7 linked regions of the Homo sapiens genome follow. The protein of the gene in region 2 interacts with the protein of the main gene of each other region in a biochemical or structural test. Each region holds a gene or a part of one and is shown on either strand. Other genes may lie near its edges. The genes, in order: LNX1, NHERF1, APBA1, MPP2, TAMALIN, DGKZ and FAM20C.

Region 1 (4,253 bases), on a different chromosome or scaffold from region 2:
TAGCTAGTGCTTCCCACGTTACTTTGACCTTTGGCCTTGTTCTGCCTTTCAGTGTAACGTATATCACATTTGCTTACTCAAAACATGACACACACATCCCCAAATTAAAGACAGCATTGGGTGGTTCCTCCCTTGTTTTTATCTTTGTCTTTGGTTCTTCCAATTGTCTTCCTGGGTAGTCCAGATGGTGGTAAAAGATCTACCCAGGATGCCTTCTAGTTTGTTAAGGTCCCTTTGAAAACCCGTACCTGGAAGTGAAGTTATCCTGTTTTGGTTTGGAGGACTCAGGATTCAGTGGAGTGATCACTTCCTTAACCAGGATACTATGTGTTTACTAATGCAATCTATGATGGTTTTTACTGTTTTGTCTTATTAGATATCTCACACTGTTGACTGGAAGAACTCAGTAGGCCTTTAGAGTACAAAACACTTACTACTGTGGCATGAACATAGAAATAAATGAAGGTAGTGATGATGGCTGCCAATTCTGACTCTCCTTGCCTGTACTTTGCTCAGTATTTCAGCCTCCAAGTGGACAAGAAATCTCTCCATAAGTAGTTGGAAGAGCTTGTGTATATGGTTGTCAGCTGGGGATACAGTGGGTAGAATGAGGGTCCCTGCAAAAGATATATCCATGTCTTAACCCCAGAACCTGTGACTATGACCTTACAGGAAAACGATCTAAGAAGGTGTCATGAGGTTTAGGATCTTGAGATGAGATCATTCTGGATTATCTGAGTGGGTCCTAAATTCAATGACAGATGTCCTTAGACACTTATAAGACAGGAGGAGAAGACACAAACGCAGAGGAGAAGGTGATGTGAGGAGAGAGGCAGAGATTGGAATTATGCACCCACAAGCTAAGGAATGTCTAGAGCTACTAGAAACTGAAAGAGACCAGAGAAGACCCTCTCCTGGAGCCTTCAGAGGAGTGTGGCCCTGCTGTTACCTTTATTTCAAACTTCCAGCCTCCAGAACTGTGAGACAATAAATGGGAGTTGTTTTAAGCCACCAAGTTTATGGGTATTTGTTATGGCAGCCCTAGAAATACAGGGGTTACATATTTCCAGGGGTATTCCTGCAGGAATGGGGTGAATGCTCCCAACGATCCTTTCCAACACTTCTCTATAGGGCTTAGAAATAGGGAAAAATATTTGGAGACAGCAGCCACATAGATTGCTACATATTTAGCAACTCTACCCTATTAGAAAATGTATTAATTTCCCTTTAATTCATTAATAAGTTAGAATACAGATGCTTTCAGAGATGACTGTTAGACTAAATTTGCAAAGGGCCTCAAGGGAAAAAAAAAAGGCCACAGATAGAATGGCTGAGTGTGTGTATGTTGTGGAAGATGTAATATAAGTCAGACAATCATATTTAATGAGGAGTCTGAAAACACATGGTGACTCATGTATTCATGCGAGTATGCAGGAGCCTAAACATGCTGCGCTCTATTCAGAAAAGGCCACGTGACTGTCAAAAGCAGTCATAAGCAAGTTATGCAAATCATCTCAGCAGATAGCAATGACATATTTAGACCTCCCCATCATGCATGTGCTATTGTGCCAAGAAGCTATTAAAGAAAATTCTTGGAGAGTTTCGACTCTGCTGCTGGTGAAGTCTTTTGTGTGCCTGTGACAAATGCGTCAAACACAAGAAGCAAATAAGAGTCACTTGAAAAAAATCATGGAGTCTAAGTCCACATATTCTAAGTCACAAATTAGTGATGTTACCAAAAATGTCCCCGGTTAATTGGGATAGAACTTGCTCCCACTGTTAGAAGTGTACTAGTCAGCCTACCATGCCAAGGAACTTGGCTTTCTAGAGCAGAGAGAAGTTCTTTCAGATGGATAGGTGAAGAAGGGCAAAGGCAAAGAGAACAAGAGTAAACAGATGATTGTAAAAACTGCAAATCTCAAATTGGTGGATCATCTTGTCTACCTTCTACCTGAGGCAGAAATTCTTTTTAGAATATAAAATAAAAAATAATGATTATTACTATTTAATGAGCAGTTTGCAATATGCAAGATACTGTGCTGGGTATTCAACATGTTTTTTCATTTAATCTAAAATAATCCTATGAGATCATTAAGGTAATCTTCACTTTACAGATGAGTGTATGTGCAGCTGAAAAACACAAATCCTCTTTGTCATTCATTTATTAATTCATTCACTCATCCAGCAAACATACACCATGCACTAAATATGCCAAAAAAAATGATCACCTTCAGTGACAAGAAACTCAGTATCCCAAAAGGCAACCTACTACATTTTCGGACAACTCTAATTCATAGAAAGTTCTTCCTCTTACTGATCTGAAGTGTGTATCTGTGTAACTAACCAAATAGGTCACTGTGGTGTCCTCATGTCACACAGAACAAAATGGAGGAAAGGGTAAACACAGAAAGTTTACGGGAGACAACAAACGTTTTCTGTTCCTGATTTCAGCTCAGTGTAGTTTTCCACATTTTATGGTTTTTTTATGGTTTTCATGTCAACCCTATTCTTTGGGGATAGTTAATGATTAAATCATATTAACCCAGGAACAGTGACACAGTCTTCCTTCCAAACAGTTTTGAAAAGCCTTTGATACTTTGGAGGCATTGTCAGAGGACAATAAATTTGCCAACCACATAAAAGAGAGTCTATGTAATGTCAGTACATAAATATTAGGAATAGTTGTATGCTACTGGGAAGTCCATGAATACTGAGGCAATGAGGAGGACACACTTTAGAGCATCTCTTATGTGTCCTCGCCTTGCCAGCATCTTACAGACGGCATTTCGAGTAGTCAAGATCGTATCCTGGTCAAGAGAGTGAAAGGAAAAAAAAAGTAGTCAAGATCCCACCAGACCCTATTTTCTCCACTTTAAGTGAGGAATTCAAATATAGAAAGGAAGTCTTAGCCAAGGTCTTGGAGACAAGGAGACAGTGACAGGTGAAGCCAGGAAATCACCGCTCCAGGAAGACCCGCTGTTTACTCACATCACAGAAGCCCACTCCCCACAGGTTTATGAAAGACCAGGCATTTCCACTGGCAGCCACTCTACCCTGGAACTCCAAGAGAAACAACACAATCTTTGTTAACAGGTTTTCCTCCTCTGCCTTTGGGAGCCTTTTGGGAAATCTTTTTTTGCTCAGTCTTTGGCCCTCAACGTACTACCGTTTCCATCATTATTACATCCAGATAGTAGCATGACCTAAGATGTCTAACTGTAAGCAATATAAAAATGTTTAAAATAATATAACAATAGTTAACACTCACTGAACATTTAAAATATGCCAGGCACTTTCCATGTAATTATTTCAATTATTCCTCCCAACAGCTCTGAGTCTGGGAAGTATTTCATTTCCCAGCTGATGAAACCAAAGCAAAGAAATATTAAGGAACTTATTTAGGCTAGCAACTACATGGTAGAACTGGGTCTGATACACAGACCTGTCTGATACTATCAACTATGCCTTCCTTTCAATATTTACAAGTAACACTGTGGCAGGTACCATTCCAAGCACTTTACACATTTCAACCCATTTCATCTTCATGATAACCCTATTACACAGCTGATGAGAGCAGCTTAAAGAATCTGTCCCAGGTCACACAGGTAGCACATGGTAGATCTGGGTTTCAAAAACCCAGGTAGGCAGCCTGATGCCAGAGACCAGACCACTATTCTAAAGCAGTAGCATTGCCCCACCTAGAATGGAATGAATAAGATTGATATTTTCTAGTGAGGCACTACCCAGTCCCCCCAGTCAGTCTGACCTACCCACCTGGACATGCAGCCCACCTTGCTTCAGTTGTAAGGATGGAGGGGGCCTGTGAAGTACACCATTTTAGCGTCCTTTGGGGAAAAATGTAGCTAAGGAAACTGACATGCAGGGGGGTTGAGGTTCTCCCTTAGGGCTCCGTAGGCAAGCTAGTAGAACAGTAGAACCCACTGACCTCAATCCACTAATCCCTTACTCTTGAATGATGAAAATTTGTGGTATCCCTGAAGGGCGAGACCCAGAGAAGTGACCAGGGCCCTGGGCACACAACTGCTCATATGCAATGACTCAAGGTCACCCAAGGGCACAGGGTATTGCATGACAAGGCCAATCACATCCAATGGGTCATGAACCTCCTTCTATGGTACAATGAGGCTCCAAACCAGGGGCTTCCTCCTGCCAGAGGCTCGGCATGAACCCTCACTCTGGTTAGGGAGAAGGGTGTTTATCTGTGAGACTGGAGGAGACCAAACACCCAGTCT
Region 2 (4,253 bases):
TATTTGTACAATGGCTTCAAAATCTGGTGTGCATTTTGCACACACAGCACGTCTGCATGTGGACCAGCACATCTCGAGTGCCCGGGAGCCTCGCGAAGCTGGTGGCTGCTGCCCGGACAGCACAGACCTGTGCTGCCTGAGACTGCCCCAAACACACTCCTCTAAATACCCCTGGCCATTGCTGTTCCCCTGACCTTAGCACAGGGAGAGGCTGCAGCCTGTCTCGGAGAATTCAGAGCTCTCAGCACCCAGCAGTGAGTGGGACTTGAACCTGGCCAGCATTCTCTGTGTGTTCCCACACCACCCCGAGGTGACCTGGACCTCAGGGAATCTGTAACTCTTGTCCTTTTCTAGGGCCTAGGGACCTAAACATTGCCTAGGAGTCTGGGGACATGGTGAGTTGTCCTACCATGAGGGGAAGGCTTCGGTCAACAGTGAAGACCACCCTTGAGGGGGGCTCTCTGTGCAGGTTCTGGGGAGTGAGGGCGGGGGTAGATACTTGGTTACCAGATTCCAGATTGACCTATCACATCACGTGAGAAGGGATGGGGACAGGAGCCTGCCACTTATGGGCTGAGGCACTGCAAGGATGCCCTGCTAGGGACAGGAGCACCTGGAAGCCCTGGATCCTTACAGGAAGCCAGTTCAAGCAGCCTGAATTTATACCACTGTGATGGTCCAGCTGTGGCTCAGAATATGATGGGCAGAAACACCTGGCAGAGTCAGGCTTCAAGCACAGCCTACTCATGTGGCCAAATGGCTGTGCAGGCACTAGAGTCAGAGGGTTGGGTTCCAAGACACACCCCTGCGCTGTGTGGGAGGAGTCGCTAGCTCAGAGTCCTGGGACCCGCCATGGCCACCTTAACTGATCAAGCCTCAGCCTCCATAGGCAGAGAATGGGGCCAATATCTGCCTCACTGGTGGTCATGTGGATTAAATGAGACAGGCAAGGTTAGTACTTAGCACAGTGCTAGACACAAATAGTAGCTATCATGTATTGAACACTTACTGTCAACCTACAAAATAGAGAAAACAATAGCTAATTTGTCTGGGGGACAATGAAATGCATATTGGCTGGGTGTGGTGGCTCATGCCTATAATCCCAGCACTTTGGGAGACCGAGGCAGGTGGATTACCTGAGGTCAGGAGTTTGAAACCAGCCTGGCCAATGTGGTGAAACCCCATCTCTACTAAAAATACAAAAATTAGCAGGGTGTTGTGACAGGTGCCACCCAGCCTGGCCACCGTGGTGAAACTCCGTCTCTACTAAAAATACAAAAATTAGCAGGGTGTGGTGGCGGGTGTTTGTAATCCTAGCTACATGGAAGGCTGAGGCAGGACAATTGCTTGAACTTGAGAGACGGAGGTTGCAGTGAGCCGAGATCACACCACTGCACTCCAGCCTGGGCAACAGAGCAAGACTGTCTCAGGAAAAAAAAAAAAAAAAAAAAGAAAGAAAGAAAGAAAGAAAGAAAGAAATGCATGTCAACATCTTTATGTCATAGGTAGAGTGCCTAAAGGCACTGTACAAACCTGTTTCCTTCCAGGTAGGGCCACTCTATCTTAGAGCAACGAAAACAGAGGAACATTTGTTATTGGGGTCTAGAGCTCTGGTTTCTCCCTGTAAAGAGTCCTGCAGCACCAACAAGACCTCGGCTGAGCTTCTTCTTTCTTTTTTTTTTATTTTGGAGATGAGTCTCACTCTGCTGCTCGGGCTGGAGTGCAGTGGCGCGATCTCGGCTCACTGAAACCTCCACCTCCCAGGTTCAAGCCATTCTCCTGCCTCAGACTCCCGAGTAGCTGGGATTACAGGCACCTGCCACCACGCCTCGCTAATTTTTGTATTTTTAGTAGAGATGGGTTTTTACCATGTTGGCCAGGCTGGTCTTGAACTCCTGACCTCAACTCCTGACCTCAACTGATCCACCCGCCTCGGCCTCCCAAAGTGCTGGGATTACAGGCGTGAGCCACCGTGCCTGGCCTGAGTTTCTTATTAATTTCCCACCCCACTTTCCCAGGGACCATTGAGATGGGACATCTGGGAAAGGGGAGAAGGACCCCATCTAGACATATGGAGTTCCTTGAGAAGGAAGCCCCCATTCACCCCCCTCCCCCTGTTTTTTTGGTAGAGACGAGGTCTCACTATGTTGCCCAGGCTGGTCTCAAACTCCTGGGCTTAAGCGATCCTCCCGCCTCAGCCTCCCGAAGTGATGGGATTACAGGCACAAGTCACTGCGCCCGGCCAGGAAGCCCCCATCTATCTCCAAGAGAATCATCTCCAGAATTACTGAGTTAACAGGAGCTTGAAGGTAAGAACCAGGGGCTACACTGTTTTGCCAGCAAAGAAAGAGATCCCAACACACAAACAATCACATACCCTGTCCATTTCAAATCCAAACACCCAGCAGCTCAAGCTCTGTTCTGCCCTACCAGAGCTCCAACTTGGTTGGTGTAAAATGGCCCGCCCGCCCTGGGAAAGAGGTTGATGGCCCTCCAGCTAACTGTGCCCCACCACCCACCTTGCTCCCTGGGGTGCCTGCACTCTGACTCTGGGATCAGGGTCAGGGCTGGCAGGAAACACCCCAAACTAGCACTTTCATTTACAAACCTGTCATGCCACCAAATCTTCCCAATAACCCTGCAGGCAGTGCCTTTCACAGAGGTGGAGGCTGAGGGTTGCAGGGAAAAATGAACTCCCAGGATCCCAGAACCAGCACACGGCAGAGCTGGGATTCAAACACTGATCTGGCTGACCCCAAAGCCTGGACTTTTGGCTTTCTAGTTTTCAAATAGAAGCTGCTAGCAGGCAAGAAAGAAGAGTGGGTAGGTTCTATCTGGAATTCCAATCTCTGGGCGGGGCGGGATGAGCTGAATGAGGACAAAGGTCCCTGACTGTTGTTATATATTCATTCATTAATTCAAAAACTGTTTTTGAGAGCCTCCCTACCATGTGCCAAGGACAGCGCTGGGGATAGAAACACAAATAGGCCACAGTTGATGCCCTTGGGCTTACCACGTAGTGGAGAAAAAGGTCACAAACAGATGATTAAAATATTGTGTGTTTAGAGCGATAAAAGATGTAAGGACAAAGAGGAGGCGGAGGCCGAGGCTGGCAGATCACCTCAGCCCAGGAGTTCAAGACCAGCCTGGGCAACACGGTGAAACTCCATCTCTACAAAGAATTTAAAAATTAGCTGGGAATAGTGGTGCATGCCTGTAGTCCCAGCTACTAGGGAGAATGAGGTGGGAGGATCGATTGAGCCCTGGAGGTCGAGGCTGCAGCGAGGCGAGGTTGCGACACCACTCCAGCCTGGGTGGAATCTGTCTCAAAAAAAACAAAAACAAAAACAAAAACAAAAAAAGTGAAGGAAAGGAAATGCTAACTCTGCCTACTGGATTAAGGACAGGCTCCCTGGGAGGGGACAGAAGTGTCAGGGTGTGAAGGCTTAGAGGCTAGAGGGGAATTCGGACCCTGGGTGTGGTTTTGGGGGTAGGGAGGCAGTGGTGAGAACAGGCTGCCAGATGGAGAAGGGCCATGGAACAGCATATAACTCTTAAAAAAAAAAAAGAAAAAATTTAATAGAGACAGGGTCTTGTCATGTTGCCTAGGCTGGTCTCAAACTCCTGGGCTCAGGCGATCCTCCCACTTTGGCCTCCCAAAGTGCTGGGATTACAGGTGTGAGCCACCACACCTGGCCACAACGTATCATTCTTAACCCACAGTGACCATCGATCAGGCACTGACTGTGTGCCAGGCTTGGCCACAGTGGCATTTGCCCAACTAGGCAGGCTGACCCAGCGCTAGCTGCCCCATGATAGGTGTGCAATGATCACTATGAAATATGTATTCATTCCAATACCAACTGCAAAGGCTGGCTGAGCCTGGACTCAGTGCCAGGCACTGAGCTACGTGCTTTACACACAGCCTCATGCAATTCCGAGGTAGCTGCCATAACCCCCAACTTACACAAGAGGAAATGGAGGCTTACAGAGGTGAGGTAACTTGGCTTCGCACAGCCTGGCTAGTACAGCTGAGCTGGCTCGGCTCTGCCCGGCCGGCACTCTGAACCCAGACTCAAGGGTTTAGGCCTCATCCTGTGACTGGTGGTGAATGGGGGGAGGAGGGCTTTAAGCAGGGGAACAGCAGGGCGGGTCTTGCTGCTCCTCTCTCCCCACGGGGCAGGCGGGGAAGGCCATCCACAAAGCAAAGCCGGTGGGCAGAGCTGGAGAGCCACTTCCACCTCCTTAGGCCT
Region 3 (2,923 bases), on a different chromosome or scaffold from region 2:
GGGTATTTAGATATTTACATGTATAACTATATATACTGGGATGACAGAAGGGAAGACCACCACTTCTCTTGGGACTTTCAAAAAATCTAGCGACTTGCTTTTAAGACTGTGGCTGCTGAGGTGACCATACCTAGGCTCACTCCCTTGCCCCAGTGGTAGTGGGAAAAAGAACCCACTTCAGCTGGGTGGACCTGTACCGAGCTCCAGCAACTTCCACTCACTGGGTGTGAAGACACACCTGGATTAACACAAAAGAATGTGGCAGAGAAATCTTCTCACTCTAATGTTACAATGTCAGTCCTCTAGGAGAGCTTGCAGAATTGGCTTTTTCAGCACCTCTCAAAGTTTACAAGGTTTTTGTGCAATAGGAATAGAAAGTATATTCTCTCCTTTAGGTGAACATACATAACCGTTATGTGCAGGTTGTACAGGGATGCACTACTGGAGTTCTGTCCCCTGGCCAGTCGTGGGCGGGCCTCTGTGGCACTGCCCAGGTGCCTAGGGACAGACAGGCATGGGCCCCTACGATGATTTTCCAAGGCTCCTGATGCCTGAAATACCACCAGTAACACTTCATTCCTGTTCTATCCACTCTTATTGGCAGAGGAAAGATGAACTGGCTGATGACTCTTTAGTGTCTCACTGTATCACCAGATACTCTACAGCAAATGGAGAACCCTGGCCATGGTTCCTTCCTGGTCCTCACGTTTGTGATGGGTTGACCTTGAGGCTGGTCTCCCAGAAACATTCTGTAAAGCATCCTTCAAAGAAGTCCTGGGGAGCTTTACGGACCATCCCAGAGCCCCTGGCCCCACCGGGTGCCACTCTCTGCAGCAGCAGAAGTCCCTTTCCCCCCAGGGCACCTGGGCAGCCAGCGGCCTCCCTTCCTCAGGGCTCCTTTGTAACACAGTGAAACTGAGAGTGCCACTGCTCGTTCCTGTCAAGCACTGAGCTTCCCTGATTCTAAGCAGAAAACTCAGAAGATGCAGAGATCTCGGGGAATTGATCACAGAACTCTCTGGTTGAAGTCTCTTGTCCCTAATCTTGTTATAGTCACTTTGCTCCCTCCTTAGAATCCCTCCATTCTCTCTATAAATACATGCTACCCACCATTTGCTCACTGAGTTCCTATTTCCATAGACACAACATAAATATCTCGGATGCAGAGAACAGGGACTATATTAATTACAAAATATAATAGTTTCTCTTCCCCTGTCTCTACTGAGGTCATGAATGAAACAAAACAAAAGCAAAGCCAAATCACACCTCACATGAACACAAAATGCTCTTTGGACCAAGTGAAAACTGGCTCAGAATTATAATATTACTAAAACATCTACACTGAACTGAGACGGAAGCATAAATATGAGGCACCTGATGAAAACACGGAACAATTCCACACCAGCCAAAAATGCTCTCAGGCCCACAAGGCAGCAAGAGGGTGTTTATGGACCACATCTGGGGATTCTGAGGCATAACTTGAGGTTGCTATTGTCTCCTTAATTTTGTGGTTTATGTACTATTCTGGCCTTTCCAATATCACATCCGCCTAGTGGCCCTGAGCAGAGAAGAAAGTTGGTCTTGCCTTGGGCCAGAAAACAAGACGCAATTGCACCTGCAGCTTGCCTTCTTGGGAACAGTCCCTCCTTCCCAGACTCCTGGGATGTGTGTTCGGCAGGGAGGGGAGTCCAGGAGGAGGATGCTTTAAGCCAAAGTGGTGCTGGAGGGGCTGGGCCTCAGCGCAGAGAGGGCAGGTCTCTCAGGATGAGGCTGAGCAGCCCCCGCCTGCCTGGCCACCTGCCAGGGAAGGGGCCTTCCAGAGAGGTGGGTTTCCAGGGGATCTGTGTGCCTAATCTTCAGCTTGTCTCACTGGTGGTGGGAGCAGGGAAGGGTGATATGCAAATGGGACTGTGTGTGTGTGTGTGTGTGTGAGAGAGAGAGAAGCAGACAGTACCTGCCTGTGTTTATCTAATGGTTGATAACTTGAGGACAACCTGGTAAAGCTTCAGATGCCCCATGAATTGCCAAGCTCTCTGTGACACTATGGTGTCCTTGCCCAAGGCAGTTATTTCCCCTTTTATCCTGGGGTGAGAAGGCTCGTATTAGAAAACACACATACGTTGAAATTAGAACTAGCAATAGAAGAGGTTTAAGGTTGGCTCAGAGATTCTGGGAAGAAATAATGTATGGTGCCCCAACTACATGGCAGGCAGTGCATAACCTTAATGACGTGGGCTGGCCCTGGGTACTACCACATTCCCACAGATAAACTCAGAGAGCAGGGATCAGCAACTGGGTTTTAGGCACTGCTGAATCAGCTGCTTTGCTGCCCCGCGAGCTCCTTTTAAGAAGTCTGCACCTCCTGGGAAGGGAGGATTCTCCCTCAAGCAGTGACAGCCCACCCCCTGGACACACCCAGAAAGCCCTCCAGGATGGTCCTGGGTCAGTACCAGGTGGGTGCTGGCTGCTCTCCATCCTCAAGGGAGTGCATACGAAACTTCCCTGGTATTGAAAAAAAAAAAAAAAAAAAAGCAAATCGGAGAGAGTAAAGAGGTCCTTGTGGATTCTTCTCTTCCTGTGTAAAACCAAATGCTGGGCGCGAGAGGGGAAAGTCTCAGTGGACACAGGGATGCAGCACGAGAAACACAACCACGAAGAGGAGAGTCCTCCATGCATGCCACCGCGTGTGGCCGCGGTCAGATGTAAACAGGCTGCTCCTGGGCCGTCAGCAGCCTGTACATCGCGGCTGGCATTGTCTTCATATGAATCTGAGGGTAAAGAACACACTTTAGTGGGGGGCTGAGGCTGGGGGCTGGCTGCGTGGGCACTGCCCAGGGCTGGCCAGAGAGGCAGTGCCTCTCCCACAGAGGGCTTTGAAGATACTCCCTACCGCCCAGCCACCACCAGGGACCTGACCCAGGGT
Region 4 (4,253 bases), about 31 Mb from region 2:
GAAGAGCCACTAACTGGCCTCTCCAACTTCAGATATAACCCCCCAACAGTCCTCCACATGGCTGCCAAAACACCCACATTTGGCCATCATATCCCTGCTTAAATAATGTAAAGCCTGCCAGGCACAGTGGCTCATGCCTGTAATCCCAGCACTTTGGAAGGCTGAGGCAGGCAGATCACCTGAGGTCAGGAATTGGAGACCAGCCTGACCAACATGGAGAAACCCCATCTCTACTAAAACTACAAAATTAGCTGGGCGTGGTGGCACATGCCTGTAATCCCAGCTACTCGGGAGACTGAGGCAGAAGAATCACTTGAACTCAGGAGGTGGAGGTTGCAGTGAGCCAAGATCACGCCATTGCACTCCAGCCTGGGCAACAAGAGCAAAACTCCTTCTCAAAACAAAACAAAACAAAAAAAACCATAAAGCCTCCCTGATACTCACAGAAGGATGCCCAAGCACCCACATACAGCCCCCAGTGCCCTCCAGACCTGCCAACCTTTGCACAGCTCGCATTGTCTTACACTTGAGGCTCAGCCTCACACCAGCCCTTCCAATCCCCTGCACACTCCTGACTCTTTCTTACCTCTGTGCTTCTGCTCAAGCTCTTCTGTGGCCCAGAATGCCCTCCCCCTCTTCCTCATTCTTCCACTCAGCTCAAGTGGTCCTTCCTCCAGGAAGCCCTCCTCACCCACCCCAGGCTGGGTTAGACACCTGTCCTTTATGCTCCCAAAATGCATAGTGTATCCACCTCTATCACTGTCATTACCAAATTGTCCTATAATTTTCTCTTTTAGTCAATCTCTCCCCAACCTGATACATGGCAGGTGACCTTAGAAAGACATACACACAAAACGCCCAAAGGCAGAAGGACAGGCAAGATGAATTCTAGAGATTCTCCAACATGTGCATGCTAGCCCGCACCAATCACACACTCCACAAGCTGGCAGTCAACAAACATCCACCCACGCACTCACCAGACAGGTGTGGGGGCAGCCCCCTCTACCTGCAGCCACTCAGGTCATCACCTGGGCATGATTTTCTTCTACAATCCCCTTCAGGGGGGCCTCTTGTGCCACATGTCCCATTCCCAAAGCCCTCTGTAGCTAATACCCCATCCCCTACTGTGCCTCCCCAAGCACAGTGCCCTTGTGCCCACCTCCCTGGAGCACTGTACCTTGGCCAGGGATCTTACTATGGGACTTTCCATAATGCCTCGAAGGAAGATCAGGTCCAGCTCTGCAGCCCCCGTGGCACTGGGGAGGGATCCCAAGTTGTCCAGGACTTGCTGCATGGCTGGGGGAAGGTACGGGCAGTGAGATACACAGGTACCAGCTGGGTACAGAAGACCAAAACACACCACAATACTTGCCACTTCCCCACCCCCATGTCCCACAGAAGGCAGCCCCTCCCCGGCAACATTCCCCTCCCTGCCCAGCACAGGCACCCCAGGCCCTTGAATGCCTGGGACAGGGATCCTGGAGGAAGGGGACAATTTCCTTGGCCTGTTCTCTCCACCCTAGGTAATGCCAGCCTGAGCAGGTGGGAGGCTCCAGGCAGCTGGAAGAGACTCTGAGGTGGAGAGAAGGGAGAAAGGGAAGCAGGTGTCAGGTTGCAGATCCTGCCCTGCACCAGAAAACCACAAGCTGTTGGGTGGATCACTTGAGGCCAGGAGTTCAAGACCAGCCTGGGCAACAAGGCAAAACCCCATCTCTACTAAAAATACCAAAATTAGCCAGGCATAGTGGTGTAGGTCTGTAATTCTAGCTACTCAGGAGGCTGAGGCAGGAGAACTGCTTGAACCTGTGAGGCAGAGATTGCAGTGAGCTGAGATCACGCCACTGCACTCCAGCCTGGGTGGCAGAGCAAGACTGTCTCTGGCCGGGCGCGGTGGCTCACGCCTGTAATCCCAGCACTTTGGGAGGCCGAAGCGGGTGGATTGCCTGAGGTCAAGAGTTCAAGACCAGCCTGGCCAACACAGGGAAACCCTGTCTCTACTAAAAATACAAAAAATTAGCTGGGCGTAGTGGCAGGCGCCTGTAATCCCAGCTACTCGGGAGGCTGAGGCAGGAAAATCGCTTGAACCCAGGAGGCGGAGGTTGCAGTAAGCTGAGATCCTGCCATTGCCCTCCATCCTGGGCGACAGAGCAAGACTCCGTCTCAAAAAAAAAAAAAAGAAAAAGAAAAGAAAACCACAAGCTCCTCACTCAACCTCTAGATGGGCTGAAGCCCAGGGCTCAGCCACCTGTACCTGGCAGGCTCAAGGATGAGACAGACAGTACTCGGAGCAAGTCCGTGAGTACAGGCCCAGAGTCAAGCAGGCAGCCACACAGGAGCCAGGGCCTGCAGCCTCCAGTCTAAGCACCACTAATTCAGTGTGACATTGTACAAGTCACTGTCCCTCACTGGCCTCAGTCTTTCCTGCCTGTAAAATGGATGGATTGGGCTAGATGATGTTTACAGGCCTTCAGCTCTGAGTGACAATGATCTATAATCACTGAGAAATTAACATGGATGATAGGAAGTCAAAGCTGAGGCCTGGAACGCTGGCAGGAGCTAGGGAAACAGGCACTGGAGGCCTTGGTGTGACCCAAAGGCTGAGGTCACACCAAGTCATCACAGGGATAAGCAAACTCTCAGCCCGAAATGGGACATAATGGAGGACACGATAACACCTGCAGCTGGGCCGCAACAATGCCCCCGAGACCTGAGGTGAGGGCTGCCTTCACTCACTGACAGAGGTGGGAGTTCCAGGCTGTGGCAAGTTCCGGGGAAAGGAAGCGAGAAGCAGAATGTGCCCAGCTGGGGGCAGAGATGGGCGAAGGGTATCATTACTCTGCCACCATGCCGCCCATGCCTACATCTGCATAACAGTACCCAAGCCACGGAGGACGGCGGAGGATGCACCCCTGGCGCCTCTCAATGCTCTTGTCAGTGCCCCCCTCCTCCAGGAAGGAACAGGAGTGGGGAGGAGGGGGCACTGGAACTGGAGCTGGCAGAGATGGTTCAGGGACTCCTGGACTCCCATCTCCTTCCTCCTCCTGCTCCCTGCCTTCTCCAGAAAAAAAAGTGCAAGCTTGCCCTTCAGACCCCTCTTGCCCAGGCCGGGGCTTGGCATTGGTCAGAGACCTGCGAGGCCCTCAGTGGGCTCTGAAAGAGGCCAGGGCAGGGACCCTTCCCTTCCTGCCAGGGTATGCCAGATTCCCTCCGTTATCTAGGGGAGGACTGAGCCAAGGGAGTTGGTGCCCTCTGCCCAGGACAGCTCTCCTGAAGGTGCCCTCAGATGACCTCTCCCAGGCCACCCTCCCCAGATGCCCCGACTCTGCTGGAGGAAGGTAGGCTAAGGGGCCAGCTGCCCCGCCCCCATCTGGCCCGCCCTTCCCTACCTTCCCTCTGGAGCTCCGCTTCCTCAGAAGACTCCAGGGATATACCCTCCAAGGAGACCCCGCTGCCTGGGCTGCCTGCCATGGCGGCCCCCAGACCCGGGGACTCCCGGAGCGTCCTACACGCCGCCGTCTACCGCCTCCCCAGCCAAAGCCTGGCCGGGCTGGGGAAGGCGGGAGTCGAGGAGCGCCCTCTGAGGAACCAGCCAATGGGAAGGCTCAGCCGCCGTGACCGCCTTGCTGATTGGCTAAAGCCCTGACTGGCGCTGCGCGGTGCAGAGCAGGCGGTAACCCGGGTGGGAGAAGAGTGGTGGGAGGGAGCCCTAGTCCCACAGATTGCCCGATCCCCAGCATGTCAGTGTCGGTGGGGATGGGGAGGAGGCGGCTAACAGGAAGTTTTGAGGAGGGGGTAGGCATGCTGCCCCTTCAAGACTGGCGCGGTACTCCGAGACCCTCCCCTCACAGCCAGCTTCAGGAGACCCGAGGGAGAAAAGTCTTGGCCCATCTTGTCCCTGTACCCTCTTTTCTAGAAGCCCCTCCTCTAATACACCCCATGCCACCTCCTCCCTATGCCCTCTGACCTCTGCTCTCAGTCCCCTCTCCAGGCCCTGTTTCCTTTACAATAGTCCCTCAGTCTAAGGAAGTCCCCAAGAACGACTCAGCCCTCCACCGGGAGGCAGCCTCACTTGGGCATGGGGCAAATACCTCAAGCCTCAGACGCCTCCCCCTACCCACCCTTGGTCAGCCACTGGGAGGCAGGGTACGTGGGGGAGGTGGCATCGCTGTGGGTAGGGATGGTGCCCCAGCCCTGCTTACCCCTCGCCTCACAGCAGCTTCTTCCCCTCCCCCATCTCCCATGAGTTCTTCCTC
Region 5 (3,975 bases), on a different chromosome or scaffold from region 2:
GGAGGAGCACTGGAGCAGGGGCCTCAAGTCCCAGGCCCAGCTCTGACACTAGCTTGCTGTATGACCCGACAGGTCACTTCAAAGAGGTCGTGACTACCACTTGGAGATGCTTGAGCACACACCATGTTGGCACACACTGTATTGAGGGTCTACCATGTGCTAGCATCAGGCAAGAAAAAAGCAGTGAAGACAGACAAGGCTCCTGAGCCCTGTGCAAGAAGCGTGCATCCTCCCGGGTGGGGCGGGCAGGCAAAGATAAACCCATAAAAGTCAAGACAGTCTCGGATGGCGATGCACAGTCTGATGGGAATAAAACAGGGCTGTCACAGGGGAGGGCATGACTGTATTTACCACTGGGTGGGAAGGTCTTCGGGAGGCAGGGCTGAGGACTGAAGGAGCCACCTGTGGGAGGGGTAAGAGCACAGACCCTGATAGAAGGGGTCTGAAGTGTGCCAGGTACAGCCAGCAGCGCAGCCAGAGCGGGGAGTAAGAAGCAGAGGCCGGCAGGGGTCAGACTCTCATCCTGGGAGGCCGGGCGCGGTGGCTCACGCATGTAATCTCAGCATTTTGGGAGGCCAAGGCAGGCAGATCACCTGAGGTCAGGAGTTCGAGACCAGCCTGGCCAACATGGTGAAACCCCGTCTCTACTAAAAATACAACAATTAGCTGGGTGTGGTGGCGCCTGCCTGTAACCTCAGCTACTCGGGAGGCTGAGGCGGGAGAATCACTTGAATCCAGGAGACAGAGGTTACAATGAACTGAGATCGGGCCACTGCACTCCAGCCTGGGCAACAGAGGGAGACTCCATCTCAAAAAAGAAAAATCTCATCCTGGGGTGGGAAACCGCTGAAGACTGCTAGAACAACAGAGTGAGCCGTGATTGGGCCCCTCACAGGCCAGGTGGTAATGCCTCAGGTCCCTACAGATCTGGCTTGTGCCCCTCAAGGGAGACCTCAGAAGCTGGGAAGAAAGGCATGCCAAGCACACGTATTTCTACAGGGATGGCTAAGGACTTGAGGCAAGCCTTGGTCACCACCTGCTTGGGTATCTGGGGAGGGAGGCTCAAGTTGTGAAGAAGCGTGGGGCCTCCAGCTCAGGCCCATACATGTAAGTTTAAATCTCCCAGCCTATTTCCCTGGCTTCAGGCTGCAAGAAAACAAGATGTGTGTGCGTTGGGCGGGGGTTGGGATGGTGGAGTCAGAGCTTGCCCCAGCCCAATCCTCCCCCTCAGGCAGTCACCACACTGACACAGATGCAAAAAACCATCCATTTATACAGTTTGTGGTTCAGAAGCAACAATATGCACAACGGTGGAACAGTCTGTGCTGTCCCCACCCCACCTGAACTCGCCAGTTCCTGTCTCCCAAGGGGCACAGAACACAGGCCCCCTGCCTGGCAGGACCCGACTTAGTTACAGGCCCCTGGGAGGGGCGAAGCCCTTAGGGGTCGAGGCCAGGAGGGAGGAGGACCAGCACCTGATGCCCCTGGGGGCCCGCTGGGTCATGGAACTGTGTGTGTGGAGGGTGGGGGGTCAGCCCACCACGGGCCATTTCTCCCCAAGGCTAAGGGCGGGGGAGCAAGTAAAGCTGAGGAGAGGGCTTCATGGGACAGGGTTCCCATCCCCTGCTGGGAGGGTGTTCCTGGATACCCCACAAGGCACTACAGATGCAGACTGTAGGCGAGCACCCCCATCTTTGGCCCCCGATTGCCTGGCTCTCCCCCTGCCCCAGCTCCCACTGTGGTTTGGCGGGGGAGAAGAGAAGGGGCTGGGCCCCCCACTCCCTCAGCAGACACCAGCCAGGAACCGACCCGGCGGGCCGAGGCTAGGAAGGACCCTCTCCCGCTGCTCTGGGCTCCTGGGGTCCTCTTGGCTCGGCCTCCCCCTCTTTTAGCGCTGGCTGTTGCGAATAAATAAATAAATACCTCCCTGCCCGCCCCCGCCCCTACAGCTGGCTCTCCTCCTCCTCCAGGGAGCGGTTGAGTCCGGGGATGAACTTGAGCAGCCGCCGGCGGAAGCTGCGGTACTTGGTTTTGCGCAGGCCGGGGCCGCATAGGGCCTGCTCGCGAGCCTCAGTCCAGAGCGCGCCCGGCGCGCCCCCGCCTCCGCCCCCGCCAGGGCCCGCGCACCGCACACTGGCGCTGCGGCTCAGCGCGGCCCGCGGCCCAGGGCCCGGCCCCACGGCAGGGGTCTCGGCGGGGCCCGGGCCGAAGGCGCGGGCCGGGGGCGGCGGGGGCGGCAGCGCCGGCGGCTCGGAGTCCCCGAAGAAGCACGTGTGGTAGACGGCGTCGTCGGCGTCGCCCCTGGCCCGTCGGGCGCCTCCGCGGGGACGCCCGGGCACGGCGAGCAGAGGCCCGAAGGGCAGCGAGCCCGGGAGCAGGCCCGCGCCGTAGAGGCAGGAGCGCACCGACTCCAGCGTGTCGTAGATGCTGGGGTCCTTCACCACCAGGCCTGCGCAGAGACGGGAGAGGTAGGGGGCGGGTCAGGCCTGGACCGTGGTGGCCTCTGCAAAGGGTCGGAGGGCATGGGCGGGGCGTCCCCGCTCCGTCCTGCTGACCATCTCTGTGGCCCTGGCCAGGCACAAACCTGAGACCCTACTTCCCTCACCCGCAAATCAGGAATTATCACTCAGATCCTTATGGGGGCCGCTTAGCACAAACGGGCCTCGGAAATAATTGACACAAACTCTTTGAGCCCTGGTGTTCCCCTCTGTAAAGTGAAGATGACACTATCTGTTACTTACCTGCAGAGGGCTAGTGTGAGAATAACCAGAAATGTGGCTGCGGCAGTACCCAAAGTAGTAGTAGCTCAACAAACCTTGCTTTACTGTGGAGGTTTACTAGTAAACCGTTCTTTACTAGAACCCGCCAGTTCTGAGGGGGAAGCGCAGATGGGGTGTCTGTAGCAGAACAAGTGGCCCCTCACACCCCGGGATCTACTCACCATGCACCAGCCGCTGCTCCTGCACCATTAGGGACCTGTACTCTCCCCACTTCTCATACAGGGTTTGCTGCAAGAGACAGTCCCCACCCCACTGTCACAAGCTAGCAGGAAACTAGCAGGACGTGGGTACAGACGAGGGATCAGGGAGTAGACAAAAGAAATCTTCAGTTACAGGAGATTCAGCTGTAAGTGACCCCCCACAGGGCAGAGGCTTGGGAAGAGGAGGGTGGAGGCTGGACGTTATCTAGGTTCCCCTACCTTCAGGTACTGCAGACGAGCCTCCAGTTCTGCCTTCCGAATTGATGTCCCATATAGAGTTTCCAGTCTGAGGTTGGAGAATCAAAGCCTGAGTGAGCCACAGGCTGAGGAAATACCAAGAGGCTGAGCTCAGGAATTCAGGCACCTCGGCTCCCAGACATACCTGAGAACATTGCCTGACGCCTTAATGATGTCCACAATCTCTCGATGCCGGATGCCTTCCACATTCAGGCCATTGACGCTGGCGATGGTGTCCCCTGCCAGGCAGACAAGGGGGTTAGATTTGCTCCATGGGGCATGCTAGAATACCAGCCTCCTACCTTAGCCAGAAAGGGGAGAAGGGTGGGTAGTAACTCCAGGGAATACTCCTGAACTCCCTCCTCCAACTCCTCATGGTTCTCTGTAGATCTCCTCTGACATCTCTCATACTCGATCCAAACACACAGAACCACAGCCATTCTTGTGGGCCTGTAGTGACTACCAGGTTGTCCACGCCCAGCACCCCAGCCAAAGGGTGGGGACCTCACACACCCAACACCCTCACTCTGCCCTCAAGAAGTTCTGTCCGGCCGGGCGCGGTGGCTCACGCCTGTAATCCCAGCACTTTGGGAGGCCGAGGCGGGCGGATCACGAGGTCAGGAGATCGAGACCATCCTGGCTAACACGGTGAAACCCCGTCTCTACTAAAAATACAAAAAATTAGCCGGGCGTGGTAGCAGGCGCCTGTAGTCCCAGCTACTCGGGAGGCTGAGGCAGGAGAATGGCGTGAACCCGGG
Region 6 (4,253 bases), on a different chromosome or scaffold from region 2:
TCATTTCTTAAAAAGACTCCAGAGGCTGGGCACAGTGGCTCAGGCCTGTAATCTCAGCAACTCAGGAGGCCAAGGTGGGAGGATCACTTAAGGCCAGGAGTTCGAGACCAACCTGGGCAACATAGCAGGACCTCGTCTCTACAAAAGAAAGAAAGAAAGAAAAAATGAGCCCGGTATGGGGGCCCCCACCTATAGTCCTAGCTACTCGGGAGGCTGAGGTGGAAGGATTGCTTGAGCCTAGGGGTTTGAAATTACAGTGAGCTATGATTGTGCCACTGCACTCCAGCCTGGGTGACAGAGGGAGATCCTGTGTCCTACAAAAGACCCCTTGAGGGAGACCAGCCCCCTAGAGCTCCCTGGGTCTACCAGGGATGGTTTTGGCAGCCTGTCCCTCACCCTTTCAGGGCCCTCAGGATGGAAGGAAGGTCTCCCCCAAGGGGATGCCTTCCAGAGGTGGGTGGGTGGTGGCAGGCTGTGTCAGTGGGGTGTCCGTGTGGGTTGGGGAGCAAGAACCAGCTTGCCCCCTTTCACAACCGCCCCCGCCTCTCTCTGTAAAATGTCAGCAAGCTGGGGAAGGGGGCGGAGAGACAGGCAAGCTGTTAACCCGCGAGATGCTGGGGTGTGGGCGGTGCGGGCCCAGGCTCCCAGACAGCTATTTTGGCATGTGCTGAGATGGGCTCATCCCTGGCAGGGGAGAGGCCTCTACGTGGGAGCTCTGAACTGATGCTCTGCCAGGAGCAAGGGGAGGAGGTCTCAGTGTAGATGAGGAGGATGCTGGGGCCCTCCCTCTCCTCTCAGACCTCTCACCATGAGGCACTGGGTACGAGTGAAGCGATCTTCCCTGCCCCAGACCAGCCACCGACCCCTGGGTGGTATGGGGGCTCCTCTGAGCATGTCCATTGGGCTTTAGACTCCCTGCGCCCTTAAAGCAAGGAAAAAGATCAGACTTGTCCTCCACGCCAGACCCAGCCCGGACGCCACATGATGACGGGCTCACAGCCCCAGTCTCTTTACCAAGGGTCTCTCCCAGTCCAGCCTGCTCCCCTGACTTGAGGGATCTTGGTGGCCATTCTCCCTTGGGGGTCCAGGTCAGATTATCTCATGGGTCTCACACCGTTGGCACCGGAGGCAAAGACCTTTCACTAAACCCCATGGAGCACTCAAACCTCTTCTTAGGTCTTCCCAGTTTAGGGATGGCAAATAATAGAAGAAAAGAGTACTCCTAAGTAGAGTGGCCCAATGTCATGAGAAGATCATTGGGCTGGGCTCCAGTGTGAGCTGGGGGATCCTGGCCAGGCCCCTGACCTTTCTGAGCCTTGGTTTTCTTATCTGCAAAATGGGAATCAAACCAACTACAAAGATGTTATGAAGATCACATGAAACTGATGAATTTACAAGCTTCTGGCAGCTGTTAATCACCAAAGACAGAGGAGCTGGAACGCCACTCCTGTCTCTTCAGCCTCTCCCTCCCCTCCGCGGCCACAGAGCCCTTGGTCTCACTCGAACCTGCTTTCCCGACCTAACCACGTCTCTGGTGTTTCAGCGAGGCAGGGGGTGAAGAGGAAAGATGGCAGAATGATAGCTCTTCCAGGGCATTTGGTTAGTTTTGGCCTACCCTCCACACCTGTGACCCAAGTGCCAGCCAAGTCCTGTGCTGAAACCCACACTGCAGGCTGGATGTGGGGCTGACCCCGACACGGAACAGAGGAGAGCCAAGAAGAGCAAGGAATGAGTGCCTGGCACCGCTCAGGGGTGGCCCAGGAACTCGGGGAGCGGAAGAACCTGGCCGCAGGTGTGGCAGATCCCGCTTCCTGCACACACTGCCCCCGCAGCTGACTTAGAGGGCTGTTCAAGGAGGAGGCAGAGGGGGCAGGGAGGAGAGGTGGTCAGCCTGTCCTGGGTCCTGTGATGAGGCCTTAATGAACATGGCCCTGGAAGCCCAGCGCGGGAGTCCCAGATGACCCCGGCTAGCTGCGAGAACTTGGCTGAGTCAAGGCCACCTGGCTGGGCCTGGGCCTCAGGGGACGGGAGGGGTGGGGCCAGGAGGCTAGAGGCACCCACCCAGCCTGCCCTGGGCCGCACTGATTGGCTCCGCCCGGCAGCTAGAGCTGCAGGTAACTTCCAGCGAGTGCCTGTGGGTCCCCGTGGGCCTGTGGACTGGCGGAAGGAGAAGCTCCTCGCCCACCGGCCTCCCACAACGGCAGCTGTCGCCCCCTTGTGTCGCTCCAGAGGCACTGCAGGGCAGCCTCCAGGGGCTGCTTCCACACCTCCCAATTCTCTCCTGCCTTAAAGTGGGTGGAAGGGCTCCGGATCCCTGCTTCTCCGAGGGGCCCGCGCGGCCTAAGACTCAGGGCTAACCTATGACTCCACTTTCACCTCTGCCCCGGGGGGGCCACTGGCGAATTCTGGAGAGGCCTCCAGGGAGCCGAGGAGGGCAGGCCCGTTTCTCTCACTCTCCCCCAGCCCAGCTGCCTGGAGCCTCAGCTTTCTCTCACCAGGGGTCACTTAGTCCTTCCTCTGTCCTTGCCTGAGGGGACACCAACTCTCAAGCTCCTGTGCCAACCGAGAATCCTGGGCAGCTCCACATCCCAGGATCTGACCTTTTTGGAGTATGGCATGGAGACAAAATGACAAGAATTGTCATTCCCTCCCCTGACAGCGTTTGGCACAGAGGGAGACTGTGAGAATTCTACACTGGGTTCCCAGCAGGGGCCAGCTGTATACTCTGGCACCTGACCTTGTGTGGGGAGCAAACACAGTGAGATGAACGCAGCTCGGCCACTGAGGCCCATTTTTCTTTCCCAAACTTGCTGGAACCCAAGGATTCTAGGTTGTCCCTGCCTCTCACAGCAACCTGGGCTGCTCCCAGCATTAGCCCAGGTGAGACAAACCACTCAAAGAGGTTTCCTTTCGCTCCCAGACACCCTGGCACCATAGACAGGGTTCTCACCTCTGCAAAAGAGGCGTCCCTCAACACGTCCCTCCCTATTCATTGCAGAACCAACTCAAACAGGGGCTGCTTCTGCTCAGGCACCCGCTGGGCACCCTCTGCAGCCCTGACTTCAGGGCCATGCTCGCTGGGGCCGTGTGGCAGTGCCTCTAAATGGGACCCATTGTCTCACACTGGTTCTGCAGGTGTGCCTCCTGCCCTCTGGGAGCTTGTGACTTTGAGCACCGTGAAGGGCAGGGGATGGCGGCACAGACGCTCAGGCTCCTAGGGGCTCTGAGGCCAAGGCTCCTTATGTCTACATGTGTGAGGTGCCAGGTAATTTCTGATGCCCCTGGGGTGTAAAACCAGCTAATCCAGAAGCCCTGTGACCTGCCAGGATCAGGCTGCTGAGACCAGGCCAGAGGATAAGCGGGTCCTCCTTCCCGGTGGGTCCTGGAGGAGGAGAGAGAGTCCACTTCTCTCCCACTCCTGGCTGCCCAATCCTTAGGGTCAACAGAAGCTTAAATGGAAAGGTCCTGCCTGCCCTCTGCTCAGGGTAGAGGAAAACTAAATACCCTGGGATCAGAGTAGGGGCCTGTACCTCCTCTCCTCCTCCTCCTCCTCAGGGAGGAGACTGATAGTTCCGGCAAGAAGTAAGGTGGGATGCAGTTGGGGTGGGAGGAATCCACAAGCTGGGGAGAATCATGGCTCACTGAGCTAAAAAAAAAAAAAAAGGGAGATGGCAAGCTGCCACCCCCCGATTCTGAGAGGATGACGCCAGTTGTGTGGGGCAGAGATGGACTTTAAGGAAAAGCCTCTTTCAGCCCCACAGGGGCTGCCATTCAGAGACTGTCCTACCCAGAGGGGCCAGGATGGCAAACATGTGGCCCATGTGCCATCAAGACCCCCTGCCAAGCCCACAGCAGACACTGCTAATTGTTCATGGAACTCTCCCCATGAGCCAGGGCCCGCATGCAGAATTCTCCACCTGGCTTCAGCAGCCACTGCCAACCTAGTTGTTACCCTTGATCTTCCCGTCGGGCCCCTCAACCCCAAGGCTGGATGTGTGTATGTGGGTGGGGTGGGGAGGGGGCGGGATGGGGGACATGGGGTGGATGACTGGGGAGAAGCAAGAGCTAGGTTAAGAGCTAGCATGGAGCTGGGATAAGATGAAGGGCTGGTTTCAGCTGGGGCTTCGAGGACTTTTACCTGAGGCTGCAACAAACAAACAAAGGTAGCAGGACCAGCCAAGCAGCATTGGAGGGGGCAGAACCCAGAGCAGGTGTACTATTCCACCCTTCCACATGTCTGCCCCCAGCACCCA
Region 7 (4,253 bases), on a different chromosome or scaffold from region 2:
TGCAAGCCTGCGTCCCCAGCCATGAAACGGGGGAAAGGGGGTCTGAACCCCCGCAGAAGGTGGCAGTGGCAGAGACCGGCAGCTGCGTGCGGGAGCAGGGTCCCTGTGTCTCAGCTGGCGTCTGCCCTGGCCTCGAGCTCTCTCTGTAACTGGGGTGGCAGGACGGACACAGAGTGGAGGCCCGAGGGGGCTCGAGCTGGATGGGCCTGGGGTGGTGGGCGGGTGAGGTCTGCGCCTCCAGGCCGCCGAGTGAGGGTGTGGGTTGAATTCAGGGCTGTGGTTGAATTCGGGGCCTTTTCTCTCCCATGTGATGGCCGGGGTGGGGTGGGGAAGGCTGTGGCCTCCTCTGTCTCCTGCGCAGTAGGGAGGAGGGTGGAGCTGGAGCCGGCTCCGGCAGGGGCTGTACCTGCAGCACTGCTGTAGCGGCACCAGGATGGAGAGCTCGTCGTGCGAATACTTCCCAAACCTTCCAGAAGAAAAGCAGAATTGTCAAGGGCCCCTGTACAAGGTTCCTAACAGGCTGCTGGGCTGGGAGCTGGGCCATGGGTCCACCTGCCTGTACCCGACACCCCAGGCAGTGGGTCCACCCAGCCCATCTCCAGCACCCCGGGCAGTGGGTCCATCCCACCCATCTCCAGCACCCCAGGCAGTGGGTCCATCCCACCCATCTCCAGCACCCCAGGCAGTGGGTCCACCCCACCCATCTCCAGCATCCCGGGCAGTGGGTCCACCCTGCCCATCTCCAGCACCTCAGGCAGTGGGTCCACCCTGCCCATCTCCAGCACCCCGGGCAGTGGGTCCATCCCACCCATCTCCAGCACCCCAGGCAGTGGGTCCACCCTGCCTATCTCCAGCACCTCAGGCAGTGGGTCCACCCCACCCATCTCCAGCACCCCAGTCAGTGGGTCCACCCTGCCTATCTCCAGCACCTCAGGCAGTGGGTCCACCCTGCCTATCTCCAGCACCCCAGTCAGTGGGTCCACCCCGCCTATCTCCAACACCCCGGGCAGTGGGTCCACCCAGCCCCATCTCCAGCACCCCAGGCAGTGGGTCCACACTGCCTATCTCCAGCACCCGGGCAGTGGGTCCACCCAGCCCCATCTCCAGCACCCCAGGCAGTGGGTCCACACTGCCTATCTCCAGCACCTCAGGCAGTGGGTCCACCCCGGGCATCTCCAGCACCCCAGGCAGTGTGTCCACCCAGCCCATCTCCAGCATCCTGGGCAGTGGGTCCACCCAGCCCCATCTCCAGCACCCCAGGCAGTGGGTCCACCCTGCCCATCTCCAGCACCCCGGGCAGTGGGTCCACCCAGCCCATCTCCAGCACCCCGGGCAGTGGGTCCACCCTGCCCATCTCCAGCACCCCAGGCAGTGGGTCCACCCCGCCTGTCCCCAGCCCTGTATGTGGGGTCCTGGCCTCTGGCCTGGGGAAGGGTCCTGGGCAGCCGAGTTGAGATGGCTCCAGGGAGCGTCAGCCCACAGTTTAGCTATTGAAGTGCCCAAAGTCCATCTCTCTGAGGCCTCCGAGCCTGGGAATGGACGTCCTCCTGCCCGAGTTACTCGCCTCCATGCTTTGCTTATTAGGGGTCACCCTCCCTGGTAACCAGGGTCTCACAGCGCCGCCCAAGACCCCCCGTGGCAGGCCAGCAGCGGCCGCAGAGGCCGCCTATCCCCCGCTGGCTGGCTCCAGGTACCGCGTGCAGGCAGAGGCCCATCTATTCTGCACGGTCCTGCTCTTCCTACCAGCAGCCTCTCCTGGCCTCCGTTTCCCAGGTAACACCAGCTCTGCCGGGACTTGGTCTGCAGCATTCCTGTGCCTCGGAGGTCCCACTCCCGGGGCGGCCCTCCCTCCTGGTTGGGGCCTGGGGCCGCCCTCTGCATCTGGCTCTGAGATGGGCCTTTGCGACATTCCCATCCCTCCACTGGAGGGTCTGCTCCCCCCGTCCCCAGGGTCTCAGGTGGGCTGCAGGTAGCTGGGAGGTGGCCGGCCCTTCCCTGGGTGTGCAGGGGCGAGGACAGGCTCACCCTCTTCCATTGTCTAAGTGGATGATGAACGTTTCATTCCCAAACTTCTCAAAAGTCTCGTAGTGGTGACGGTCCATGTTTCCTGCGGAGAGAGGCAGAAAGTGTCACAGCTCGTGGGGAGCCGGGCCACGTAGCTCAGAGGCCTCTGTGCTCTGCAGAGCGGCGTCTCCTCCTGCCAGCGTGACCTCTAAGCAATCTGGCCCCTTCACAGGCCACAGGACCGCAGCCGGGCCGTGCCACGGAGTGTGCCCTGCAGAGCCCTGCGTGCATCCGCTCCACGCAAGGCGAGTGACACGGGGACCCCGTGCCCCTGCGGGACGTACCCATGAGGAAGTCGAAGATCGTCATGTCCATGACGTCCAGGATGCGGTGGCTGCTGTCGTAGGGCGGTGTCTGCTTCACCTCCTCGCAGTAGTCAGGGTCCACCTCCCACCTGCGGGGAGCCAGCGTGAGACGGGGGGCCCAGGCCAGATTCTGGGGAGCCCGGCGCGTGCCATGAGGAGCAGAAGAGAAACACTGCGGCAGGGACCTTGGCGTCTGCAGATGGACCCGCCCGGGCTGCGGCGCTGAGGCTGCATTAGCGGGAGCACGGGTGTGGGAGGGGACGGAGCCGCTCTGCCCTGCCTCGGGGTGACCCCACCTGGAGCTGCCTTCACCTCTGGGCCCCGTGTTTTTTGCAGAGTCTCTGTGGGGAAACAGGACCTGGACTACACACTCACGAGGACAACGTGGGGCGGAAAGAACAGGGGCCGTTTCTCCCGCAGGAGTGAGGAGAGGGACGGGGCGAGAGCAGAGCTCAAACGCTGAGAGGCCCCGATTCGAGGGACCTGGTGGGCAGGCCGGCCCGGGTCAGGGAAGCACATGGAAATACTGGAGTAAGGACGCCCTCTGCCACCGTCTCATCAGGAAGCGGTCATCTCACACAGGCCAGCATCGCACAGCAGGCTCTGCACCCATCTCTGCCACCCCCGTGGGCGCCGACCCTCCCATGCCCGCCCAGGCCCAGCTCCCTCTGCCGTAGGGTGGCCGGACGCCAGCCCCCCGGCCCCGCACTCACTCGGCCTTCTTGCGCTTGTGGTAGGAACGCCGCCAAGGGTTCCGCCAGGTCTTCCTCTTGGCCAGGGACAGGTCGGGCAGGAAGGCCGCCAGCGAGCCCTCGATCTGGTCTGGCTTCCCGCACAGGGCGTGCTCCGTGGAGCAGTAGTAGGAACACTCGCCGTAGAAGCAGATGTTGTTGGCTGGGGAGGGACAGGCTGCGGGTTACCAGGGCCGCACAGGGCTGCGTCCTCACCTGTGGTCTCACGGCCCCCAAGGCCGGGCCGGGCTCTGCCTGGTGCTTCTCATGGGCAGGACTCACCCACAGTTCCCCATCAATCCCAGCAAACACCTCCACCCCACGGTACAGAAAAATGAACCCACAGAGCTGACGTCCCGAGGCCACACAGCTCCCCAGAGGCAGAGCCCGGCCTGAACCCTCGAAAATCAGGGGCTGGTCTATGGAAACCCTAGGGCCAACATTTAGTCTTTTAAAAAATGCATTCATATTGTCAAGAAAGTGAAGATACAATCCACAGAATGGTAGAAAACGTTTGCAAACCGCACATCTGAGGATCTAGCATTTAGAGTGTATGAAGAACTCTCATCACTCAATCACAAAAAGACAAAAAAAACTAATAAATGGGCAGAGGGCTTGAACAGCTGATTCTCCAAAGACGACCCTGATGGCCGACAAGCATGAGAAGAGACGGGCGCCATCGTGAGTCACCGGGGAGATGCAAATCAAAGCCACGGTGAGGCACCATCTCCTGTCTGCTGGGATGGCTTCCATCAAAAGAGCAGCTGCCGGCTGGGACGGGGGAACCGCCACCTCTGTGCGCTGCTGGCGGGGGGTGCACACGGCACAGCCACGGCGGAAACGGTCTGCAGCCCCCAACTGATTAAACACAGTGTTTCCACGTGACCCAGGAACTCCCCTCCCATGTAAACCCCTAAGAGAAGAGAAAACATTTCTATACAAAAACTCAGACACGAATGCTCACAGCAGCACCGCTCACCACAGCCGAAAAAGAGAGAATCCACCCAAATGTCCATCAAGAGAGGAGTGGACACGCCAGGTGAACATGGTCCATCCGTGCGATGACACGAAACGAAATGAAACAAGAAGAGGAATGAAGCCCTCACTGAACCCGAGAACCCTGTGCTCCGCGAAGGAGGCCAGACAGAGGAGG

The links.
Region 1: the proteins of NHERF1 (region 2) and LNX1 interact in a test that uses a peptide from one of them, tested with the Homo sapiens proteins (one large-scale study listed by IntAct).
Region 3: the proteins of NHERF1 (region 2) and APBA1 interact in a test that uses a peptide from one of them, tested with the Homo sapiens proteins (one large-scale study listed by IntAct).
Region 4: the proteins of NHERF1 (region 2) and MPP2 interact in a test that uses a peptide from one of them, tested with the Homo sapiens proteins (one large-scale study listed by IntAct).
Region 5: the proteins of NHERF1 (region 2) and TAMALIN interact in a test that uses a peptide from one of them, tested with the Homo sapiens proteins (one large-scale study listed by IntAct).
Region 6: the proteins of NHERF1 (region 2) and DGKZ interact in a test that uses a peptide from one of them, tested with the Homo sapiens proteins (one large-scale study listed by IntAct).
Region 7: of the proteins of NHERF1 (region 2) and FAM20C, one has a biochemical effect on the other in vitro, tested with the Homo sapiens proteins (one large-scale study listed by IntAct).

What each region holds. Positions count from the first base shown.
Region 1 is NC_000004.12:53,584,836-53,589,088, forward strand, and holds part of LNX1 (E3 ubiquitin-protein ligase LNX), read right to left. Parts: intron 1-4,253.
Region 2 is NC_000017.11:74,751,598-74,755,850, reverse strand, and holds part of NHERF1 (Na(+)/H(+) exchange regulatory cofactor NHE-RF1), read right to left. Parts: intron 1-4,253. UniProt on the Homo sapiens protein: Scaffold protein that connects plasma membrane proteins with members of the ezrin/moesin/radixin family and thereby helps to link them to the actin cytoskeleton and to regulate their surface expression. Necessary for recycling of internalized ADRB2.
Region 3 is NC_000009.12:69,428,631-69,431,553, forward strand, and holds part of APBA1 (amyloid-beta A4 precursor protein-binding family A member 1), read right to left. Parts: intron 2,769-2,923; coding exon 2,697-2,768; 3' UTR 1-2,696. UniProt on the Homo sapiens protein: Putative function in synaptic vesicle exocytosis by binding to Munc18-1, an essential component of the synaptic vesicle exocytotic machinery. May modulate processing of the amyloid-beta precursor protein (APP) and hence formation of APP-beta.
Region 4 is NC_000017.11:43,897,085-43,901,337, forward strand, and holds part of MPP2 (MAGUK p55 subfamily member 2), read right to left. Parts: exon of another isoform or gene 4,200-4,253; intron 3,541-4,199; exon of another isoform or gene 3,469-3,540; coding exon of another isoform or gene 3,387-3,468; intron 1,297-3,386; coding exon 1,178-1,296; intron 1-1,177. UniProt on the Homo sapiens protein: Postsynaptic MAGUK scaffold protein that links CADM1 cell adhesion molecules to core components of the postsynaptic density. In CA1 pyramidal neurons, required for synaptic KCNN2-containing channel function and long-term potentiation expression.
Region 5 is NC_000012.12:52,013,168-52,017,142, reverse strand, and holds the end of TAMALIN (protein TAMALIN), read right to left. Parts: intron 3,457-3,975; coding exon 3,363-3,456; intron 3,267-3,362; coding exon 3,200-3,266; intron 3,009-3,199; coding exon 2,942-3,008; intron 2,450-2,941; coding exon 1,944-2,449; 3' UTR 1,254-1,943; downstream 1-1,253. UniProt on the Homo sapiens protein: Plays a role in intracellular trafficking and contributes to the macromolecular organization of group 1 metabotropic glutamate receptors (mGluRs) at synapses.
Region 6 is NC_000011.10:46,350,266-46,354,518, reverse strand, and holds part of DGKZ (diacylglycerol kinase zeta), read right to left. Parts: intron 1-4,253. UniProt on the Homo sapiens protein: Diacylglycerol kinase that converts diacylglycerol/DAG into phosphatidic acid/phosphatidate/PA and regulates the respective levels of these two bioactive lipids.
Region 7 is NC_000007.14:254,859-259,111, reverse strand, and holds part of FAM20C (extracellular serine/threonine protein kinase FAM20C precursor), read right to left. Parts: intron 3,264-4,253; coding exon 3,083-3,263; intron 2,459-3,082; coding exon 2,349-2,458; intron 2,108-2,348; coding exon 2,026-2,107; intron 467-2,025; coding exon 407-466; intron 1-406. UniProt on the Homo sapiens protein: Golgi serine/threonine protein kinase that phosphorylates secretory pathway proteins within Ser-x-Glu/pSer motifs and plays a key role in biomineralization of bones and teeth.